Linked DNA regions of Homo sapiens: region 2 is reported to be linked to region 1. The links are microRNA targets in miRTarBase. Many come from high-throughput screens and were not tested one by one. Region 1 holds a microRNA gene; the other region holds the end of a gene's coding sequence. Distances are between the middles of the regions.

Region 1 (4,151 bases):
GACAGAGTCTCACTCTGTCACCCAGTCTGGAGTGCAGTGGCATGATCTTGGCTAACTGCAACCTCTGCCTCCCAGGTTCAAGTGATTCTCCTGCCCTGCCTCAGCCTCCCAGGTAGCTGGGGTTACAGCGGGTGTGCCACCACACCTGGCTAATTTTCTTGTAATTTCAGTAGAGATGGGGTTTCACCATGTTGGCCAGGCTGGTCTCAAACTCCTGACCTCAGGTGATTCTCCCGCCTCAGCCTCCCAAAGTGGTGGGATTACAGGCGTGAGCCACTGCGCCCGGCCTGATCCCATATATTTTAAATCATCTGTAGATTACTTATAGATTAATACAGGCCAGACATGGCACATACTTATAGTCCCAGCTACTTAGGAGGCTGAGGCAAGAGGATTGCTTAAGCCCAGGAGTTCGAGGCTGCAGTGAGCTATGATCACACCACAGCACCCCAGCCTGGGTGACAGAATGAGGCCCTTTTTTTGTGTTTTAAGAAAAAAGAAAAAGCACTAATACGGTGTAAATAATTGTTACACTGTTTTGAATTGTAGTTTTTTTCCCCTAAATATTTTTGATCCACCCTTGGTTGAGTCTGTGGATATGAAGGGCTGGCTGTATCTGGACCTGATCTCAGGGCAGGAGTGGGCTGGGAACAAGCGGTGTGTAAGAACTGTTTCTGGGCAGAAGCAGCCCACCCCACACAGACTACTGCCTGGCACTTGGCAGTTATGGAAGAACCCCCAATTCCCCCACTTGATCTTTAGAACTAGAGGAAAGAAATCACTAGAGCAGACTCAGACCAACTTGCTGATCTCTGGGTCCCAGGAACAAACCAGACTCTGCTCTGAGCTCCAGAGCTAGGCAGGACCATGTGATGGCTGAAATCTGGGTGCTTCCTGCATGTGGGCCCCGGTGCCATCACAGTGGCAGGACAGGGCAGTTCCTCCAGAGCTGTGTGACACGGAGCCAGTGAGTACCCTCTGGCACCTCAGTTTCACTCTTTAAAGGAGAGTAGCACTTGACACACCTGTTGAGTCCTCAGAGTAACCCGGCCCTCAGGTGAAGAAGGGTGGAGAGATCGAAAAGCATTTGGCACAGGGCCTGGCAGATGTGTGCTCCAGTTAATAGAAGCGTGCAAGCGTTTCTGGGGAGGCTGGTGTGTCGACTGGATTTTACGGAGCTTTTTTTGCAGGCAAGGAGGCTGGCTGGGGTGGACCAGGGACTTGCCCAAGCCAGCCTTCCCTGTGTCTGCAGAGGGGCTGGTACACATTCCAAGCAGGGGGCACCCACTGCACAGAGTGTCTGCCCTGCCCTTGTTATCCTGAGCTCTCCAGACTGAGGTGGCCCGGAGAGTGGCAATAGGTCCCTTCACTCCTGCTTCTCTGGGGCCCATGGAGATGGTCACAGCTAGGCTCCACCCCTACATAACCTCAGGTTCAATTCAACAGCAGTGCTGCTGGGATAGTAACCACTAAAGAAGTTGGCCCTGGAGATGGTGGGAGTGCCCACCCAGGGTGCAGGGCTGTTTGTCAAGGAAGAGCTAGCCGGGGGGGTGGGTGAGGAGAGGGGGCTGTCAGTTTCTGGGTGTTAGTGTGTGTTTTCAGTTTCCCTTCTTATAAAACAGTGAGAATTAGCTGTTTACACACAAGGAATTGTTTACCTGAGACCTTGATCAAGACCCTTAAATCTCCCTCTCACACTACCCCCAGCTTCCACAGCGCGGCACCTGTACCTCCGGGGTGGCGCTGGGGTTGGCTCCATGACCAAGATCTATGGGGGACGTCAGAGAAACGGCGTCATGCCCAGCCACTTCAGCCGAGGCTCCAAGAGTGTGGCCCGCCGGGTCCTCCAAGCCCTGGAGGGGCTGAAAATGGTGGAAAAGGACCAAGATGGGTAAGCAGGGTAGAGGGGGCTGCATTGATGGAGTAGCCTTGAGGCCCGGTCATCAATTCCCCAACGAATGGTCCTGCATAGTCTGCCCAGCCCCTCAGGCCCCTCCTATCAGAGGCAGGCAGGAGGGGATTCTGCAGAAAAGCAAACAGCACGGGGCCTCACCCCGACCTCTCTGGCTGACTAGCCCAGGCTCCAGGAGGGTAATTTAGCGACTATCTGCTTTCATTAGCCTGCTCGTTAACTTTTCCCAATTGATTTTTCGGGGCTTTTGATCTAAATGCTTGCACAAACAACACCCCGTCAGCTCCCAGGGGGGCTCCCACTACTGCCCCCAGCTCGTTAGAATGCACCTGACTAGGGCCCTCAGTGGGACTTGGCTGGCGGCAGGTGGCTTTTTGAGAAGCCTGGCTCACAGCCAGGAGGGAAGGGGCTGAGAACAGGACCTGTGCTCACTGGGGCCTGCATGACCCTTCCCTCCCCACAGCGGCCGCAAACTGACACCTCAGGGACAAAGAGATCTGGACAGAATCGCCGGACAGGTAAGGCCTGCGTTTGGGGTGGGGCTGGGTCCCTTAGTCGCTGCCCAAGCATTTCCAAAGCCCATACTTTGTCAGGTAGACTTATTTCCTTCTCTGGAGGGCACAGCCCAGGGTGCTGGTGGGGTCAGAGGAGGGCTGCCCAGAGACAGGAGAAAGGACAGTCCTGTCTGACTTTTCCTGTTGGTGCTGCTTAGAAATTTGGAGGCAGGCTGGCTGTGGTGTCTCACCCCTGTAATCCCAGCACTTTGGGATGCCGAGGCAGGCGAATTATCTGAGGTCAGGAGTTCAAGACCATTCTGACCAACATGGAGAAACCCTGTCTCTACTAAAAATACAAAATTAGCCGGGTGTGGTGGCACATTCCTGTAATCTCAGCTACTGGGGAGGCTGAGGCACAAAAATCACTTGAACCCGGGAGGTGGAGGCTGCGGTGAGCCAAGATCATGCCATTGCACCCCAGCCTGGGCAACAAGAGTGAAACTCCATCTCAAAAAAAAAAAAATTGGAGGGAACTCCAGCCCAGGTGCCACTGGGCATCTATCCACAGAGCACATAGCTGTACCCGTAGATGACTCCCCCTCCCCAGGTCAGCCTGCGATGTTTCCCCTTAGTCCTCATGCGTACTGAGCATCACATGGGCTGCTTGGGAGAGGTGGAGATAAGGGAGGGGGGCTGGTTCAGAACCCAGGTCTCCATTCAGATCCTGGCTGGCCAACACCCTGGGGCAGAGTGGCCACACCCCTGGTGCCACAGTCTCCTGTCTTGGCCTCCCTGTGGCCAAAATCTACCCTTGGCCACCTCAAGCATGGTAGTGAGGAGTCAGTGAGCTATAGTACAGCAGGAGCACCCAGGGCCTGGCATGAGCTCAATTCTGTATCACTGACTCAGGCCTCCTAGGAGCCTTGGAGCATTTAGTCAGTCAAGTGTCACAAAAGAATGGAAAGTGTCAGCCCTCTAGGAGTTGGGGGTGGTCTGGAAGGAGAAAGCTCTTCCAGGCAGAGTGGGGCTTGGCGCACACATCATTGCTGGTGGTTGGATGTTGGCCTTCTCACATGGCAGTGGGCGGAATTTGGACTCCACTCCGCCACTCCCTTCCTTTTTTTTTTTTTTTTTTTTTTTTTTTTTTTGAGACAGAGTCTTGCTCTGTCGCCCAGGCTGGAGTGCAGTGGTGCAATGTCAGCTCACTGCAACCTCTGCCACCTGGGTTCAAGCAATTCTCCTATCTCAGCTTCCCGAGTAGCTGGGACTACAGGCACACACCACCACACCTGGCTAGTTTTTATATTTTTAGTAGAGACAGGGTTTCACCATATTGGTCAGGCTGGTCTCGAACTCTTGACCTCAGGTGATCCACCTGCCTCGGCCTTCCAGAGTGCTGGGATTAAAGGTGTGAGCCACTGTGCCTGGCCACTCCCTTGAGACTCAGTTTCCACGTCTGTGAAATGGGGGAATACCCACAGTGAGAATTAGATGAGATAGATGCATTTGAAACCACAAATCGGGGTGCCCACCTGTGGTGGGTAGTTAGGTAGCTGTTACAAAGTGCCCCAGCAGAGACCCCCTTGACTAACTTTTATTCTTCCATCTTTTCCCACAGGTGGCAGCTGCCAACAAGAAGCATTAGAACAAACCATGCTGGGTTAATAAATTGCCTCATTCGTAATCCTGGTCTGGGTCTCTTTTTTGAGTCTCTTGCTCTGTCGCCCAGGCTGGAGTGCAGT
Region 2 (4,000 bases), 29 Mb from region 1:
ACAAGATCCAGGCCAAGTATCTGGACCAGGTGTGCCCACCCACCCAGCACTGGCTCAGCAGAGGCACCTCTGCCCCTTTATTCTCTGATCTTTTGCTCCACCATCTGGCCCTCTGCCCTCTAGCCTCCTGCCCTTTGCCCCCACATTTCAGATCCTTCACCCTTATTCCGGCCATAGAGGACTGTGGCTGGCCTGGCCTAGGTCCCTGTGACCCTGGAGAGCAGGGGGTCTAGCCCAGTGATCTCTGACCATAGTGATGCAGCTCCCACTTATGACACCTTAAGCTCCTGCCCTATATTCTCTCCCTGACTCTGGAAGCTTTCTAGCTTTACCGCTTCTATTGATCCACACTCTGTCTCTGCCTTCCTGCCCCCTGACCACTGCCTTCTACCCTCTGCCCTGGCTGCAGATGGAGGACCTGTATGAAGACTTCCACATCGTGAAGCTGCCGCTGTTACCCCATGAGGTGCGGGGGGCAGACAAGGTCAACACCTTCTCGGCCCTCCTCCTGGAGCCCTACAAGCCCCCCAGTGCCCAGTAGCACAGCTGCCAGCCCCAACCGCTGCCATTTCACACTCACCCTCCACCCTCCCCACCCCCTCGGGGCAGAGTTTGCACAAAGTCCCCCCCATAATACAGGGGGAGCCACTTGGGCAGGAGGCAGGGAGGGGTCCATTCCCCCTGGTGGGGCTGGTGGGGAGCTGTAGTTGCCCCCTACCTCTCCCACCTCTTGCTCTTCAATAAAATGATCTTAAACTGCTGTATTGTTGACATTGGGAGGTGAGGGTAAGCACCTTTATGTACAGTTGCACAGGTTGTGCACTGGACAGAAGTGTCACATCTAGAGGGGCCCATTCACAACAGAGACCTAATAGAGATGCATGTTTATTGTGGCAACTTTGGAAGGAGGGTGTCTTGGGTGAGAGATACCTTTGTCTCATTCTGTGTGGGTTAAGGTGTCCCTGTTGGGCCTGTGAAGCCTGGAATGGAAGACAGAGGCATTTTCCCACTTCCTTGGAGGCTCAGAGCGTGGGAACTGGGAGGCCCCTTGGCCAGCCCCAGGCTGGTGGGGAGCAGAGCAGATTAGGCCGGCAGTGGGCCCGGCACTGCCTGCTGTTTGGTTTGGGAATTAGTGGGCGCCCTGGGGAGAGGCCAGGCCTGCCAGACTGGGGATTAACAGTCTCCACCCCCCAATTCCTGCCCCCATGGGATGGCATCAGCCCCTCCCAGCAAAGGGCTGCAGCAAGGGGGCTGGTTAGTGGGCAGGGTGACAGAGGACTCCGGCTGGAGGGGCTCCTGAAGTCTCATCCTGACTCCAGAGCGGTCTCAGGCTGTGGGCACACAGGCCTGGAAGGCACCTAGTGGACCCCCTTATCCCCTGCCCTTCGCTCCTCCCTCTGCCACTGCCTGGGCTGCTATTGTTGTCCCCACTTGGGAGACTCAGGATGGGGTATGACCTTGAGAGTTTACAAGTTCCAAGCCAGAGCTGGCTAGGGGGGACAGAAAGGGGGTTCCTGAGGACACACGTGAGTCGGTGTTCAGGCCGGGCGCGGTGGCTCACACCTGTAATCCCAGCACTTTGGGAGGCCGAGGTGGGTGGATCACTTGAGGCCAGGAGTTCAAGACCAGCCTGGCCAACATGGCGAAACCTCGTCTCTACTTAAAATACAAAAATTAGTCGGGCATGGTGTTGGGGTGCTTGTAGTCCCAGCTGCTCCAGAGGCTTAGGTGGGAGAATCGCTTGAACCCCGGAGGCAGAGGTTGCAGTGAGCCAAGACAGGGTAAGACCCTGTCTCAAAAAACAAAAGTGGTGTTCAGGTCCAGTCATGGTGGCTCACGCGTGTAATCCCAGCACTTTGGGAGGCCGAGGCAGGTGGATCACGAGGTCAGGAGTTGGAGGCCAGCCTCCAACTACTCTCTACTAAAAAGACAAAAATTAGTCAGGCGTGGTGGTGCCCACCTATAATCCCAGCTACTTGCGAGGCTGAGGCAGGAGAATCACTTGAACCTGGGAGGCAGAGGTTGCACTGAGCCGAGATTGCGCCATTGCACTCCAGCCTGGGCAATAAAGTGAGACTCCGTCTCAAAAAAAAAGTGTTCAGACCCAGAGTCTGGGTGTGCCAGGGTGTGTGTGTAAGGGGAACCCCACCAGGAGCCTAGACTTGTCACTCCAACTCCCTGGGGTGTGCACAAGCAGGTGTGGGCCTGTTGGGGTGGCATGTGTAAACAAACACGATGGTACAGCCGGCTCCGCGCCAAACTGCCAGGATCCAAATCCCAGCTGTGCTACGAACAAGATGAGATGTGACATCGGAGCCTCAGTTTCCCTACTTAGATAGTAAGATGACCAACTTAGCATGCCCGTAAGGATTCCATGAGATGAAACACGCAAGGCGTTTATACCAGCACCAGACAGGAAACCGCAAGAAATGTTTGTTATTTTTCGTTGTCACAATTAGTAAGCATATCAAATAGCCCAGGAAGCCTGCCCCCAGCCCCTGCGGGAATTCAGCAGTCGGAAGTGTGTGGGGATGCGGGTGAGCTGGGGTAGGGAGGATGAAAAGGAGGAGCGGGCTTCAGTGAATGCAAGGACACTTCCTAGGGAGTGAGGGCTGCTGATCGAGAACTGAGCTCATCAGCACCGAGCCTGCCACCGCCTTGCCAGGTTCCGCAGCTGACGGCACCGCCCCAGCTGCCCCCTCGCCCCCATTTATGGGCTGTCCGGCAGCTGGACAGCGAAGGCATGGGTCACAGGGTGACCAGCCCAGGCGGGTTCCTAATTACTCCGGGCAGGGTGAACATCTGCCAGTCTGGGAACACGGCGTCCCAGCCTGCTGGGCTTGGAACCTCGGGCGGGGCTATGTAGAATGCACGAGGGGCTCCTGAGCACTCTAGGATGCCCATCCCAGGGTTTGACCCCTGAACTTCTGCCCCTCCCACACCAATCTGTGTGTTAATGTTCTTCAGGCTGGGCAATGGAGGGGGAGTGGGTACTGTTTGTACCAGGCTGGGAGTGTCCCCTTTAGAGGTGTGTCTGTGAAGAATGAACATCTGCCCAGAATCCATGCCAAATGCAGGACAAGGTTTTGTGTCCCCAAGCTTGTGTGTTCATGGCAATGCTGAGAGTATCTGAGACCTGTGGGTGTGGGTGTGGGCCTGCCGCCGGGAGGGAGCGTTGGAAAGGGGGTTGCCTTCACATATTGGTGTACAAATGCTGGTGAATTTCACCAGCGGTGATAGCTAGGGGACCCTTGAGGGAGGGGTGGCTGTTGTGTGTGTCTTTGCAAGATTGGTGAACCTCAGGCCCCGCTCTGAGCCTGGGATTGTGTGCCACCGCACTGAGGAAAGGGTTTTTGCATTTGGTGTGTGATCATGGCTGCATCTTTGCACAGGGAAGATCGGGAGTAAAACCTCCTTGCAGTGGAGTATGACTGTGTGTGTGAAGGCATTCTGAGGTCTGGGTGGGGTCTGGCACTTGGCTGGTTGTGTGGGTGTCTTTGTTACATGGCGTGATCATGACGGAATTCAGACCGTTGGGAGAGCCGTGTGTATGAAAGAGGAGAGCCTAGTATGTCAGGGTCCACCTGCCTTATATATGCGTGATGGAGGCAGGAGGGGTCGAGGTAGGTGTGTCTTGTGTGACCCTGGAAGGTTCTGTGACAGTGTGTACTGCTCCTCTGGGTAACCATAGTTATGTGAGGCTGTCTTTTTGTTTTTTCAATAGAGATGGGGATCTCCCTATGTTGCCCAGGCTGGTCTCGAACTCCTGGCTCAAGTGATCCTCCCACCTAAGCCTCCCAAAGTGCTAAAATTACAAGTGTGAGCCATCGTGCCTGGCTGAGGCTGTCTTAAGAGCAGCTAGATTTGCTTCTGGGACTATGATGTGTGTTTCTGCGTGCATCTCTGTGACACTGTGTGATTACAGGTGACTGTGAAGTGACCCAGCCTCACTGAGCAGTGTGTGTGTTTCTGGGACTGGGAAAAAGACCATCCCTGCCTC

Evidence for each region. The annotated mature microRNA hsa-miR-6797-5p reads AGGAGGGAAGGGGCUGAGAACAGGA and lies in region 1 at 2,309-2,333, shown strand. An mRNA with a match to its seed (bases 2 to 7 or 8) in the 3' UTR can be bound and repressed. Matches are read on the target gene's strand: a 7mer-m8 pairs with bases 2 to 8, a 7mer-A1 pairs with bases 2 to 7 and ends in A, and an 8mer does both.
Region 2: miRTarBase lists GET3 as a target of hsa-miR-6797-5p. Seed matches in the 3' UTR shown: 7mer-A1 at 580-586.

What each region holds. Positions count from the first base shown.
Region 1 is chr19:41,867,324-41,871,474 of GRCh38, forward strand. MIR6797 (microRNA 6797) reads left to right here and starts at 2,304; the gene lies at 2,304-2,375. It overlaps RPS19 (ribosomal protein S19), which reads left to right. Exons shown (of 6, transcript NM_001022.4): 4 at 1,708-1,891; 5 at 2,376-2,430; 6 at 4,028-4,151. The coding sequence ends at 4,054. RefSeq lists an enhancer at 2,152-2,710.
Region 2 is chr19:12,747,564-12,751,563 of GRCh38, forward strand. GET3 (guided entry of tail-anchored proteins factor 3, ATPase) reads left to right here. Exons shown (of 7, transcript NM_004317.4): 6 at 1-29; 7 at 410-760. The coding sequence ends at 541. Among named protein-coding and RNA genes, the nearest start is that of BEST2, 2.2 kb to the right of the region's middle.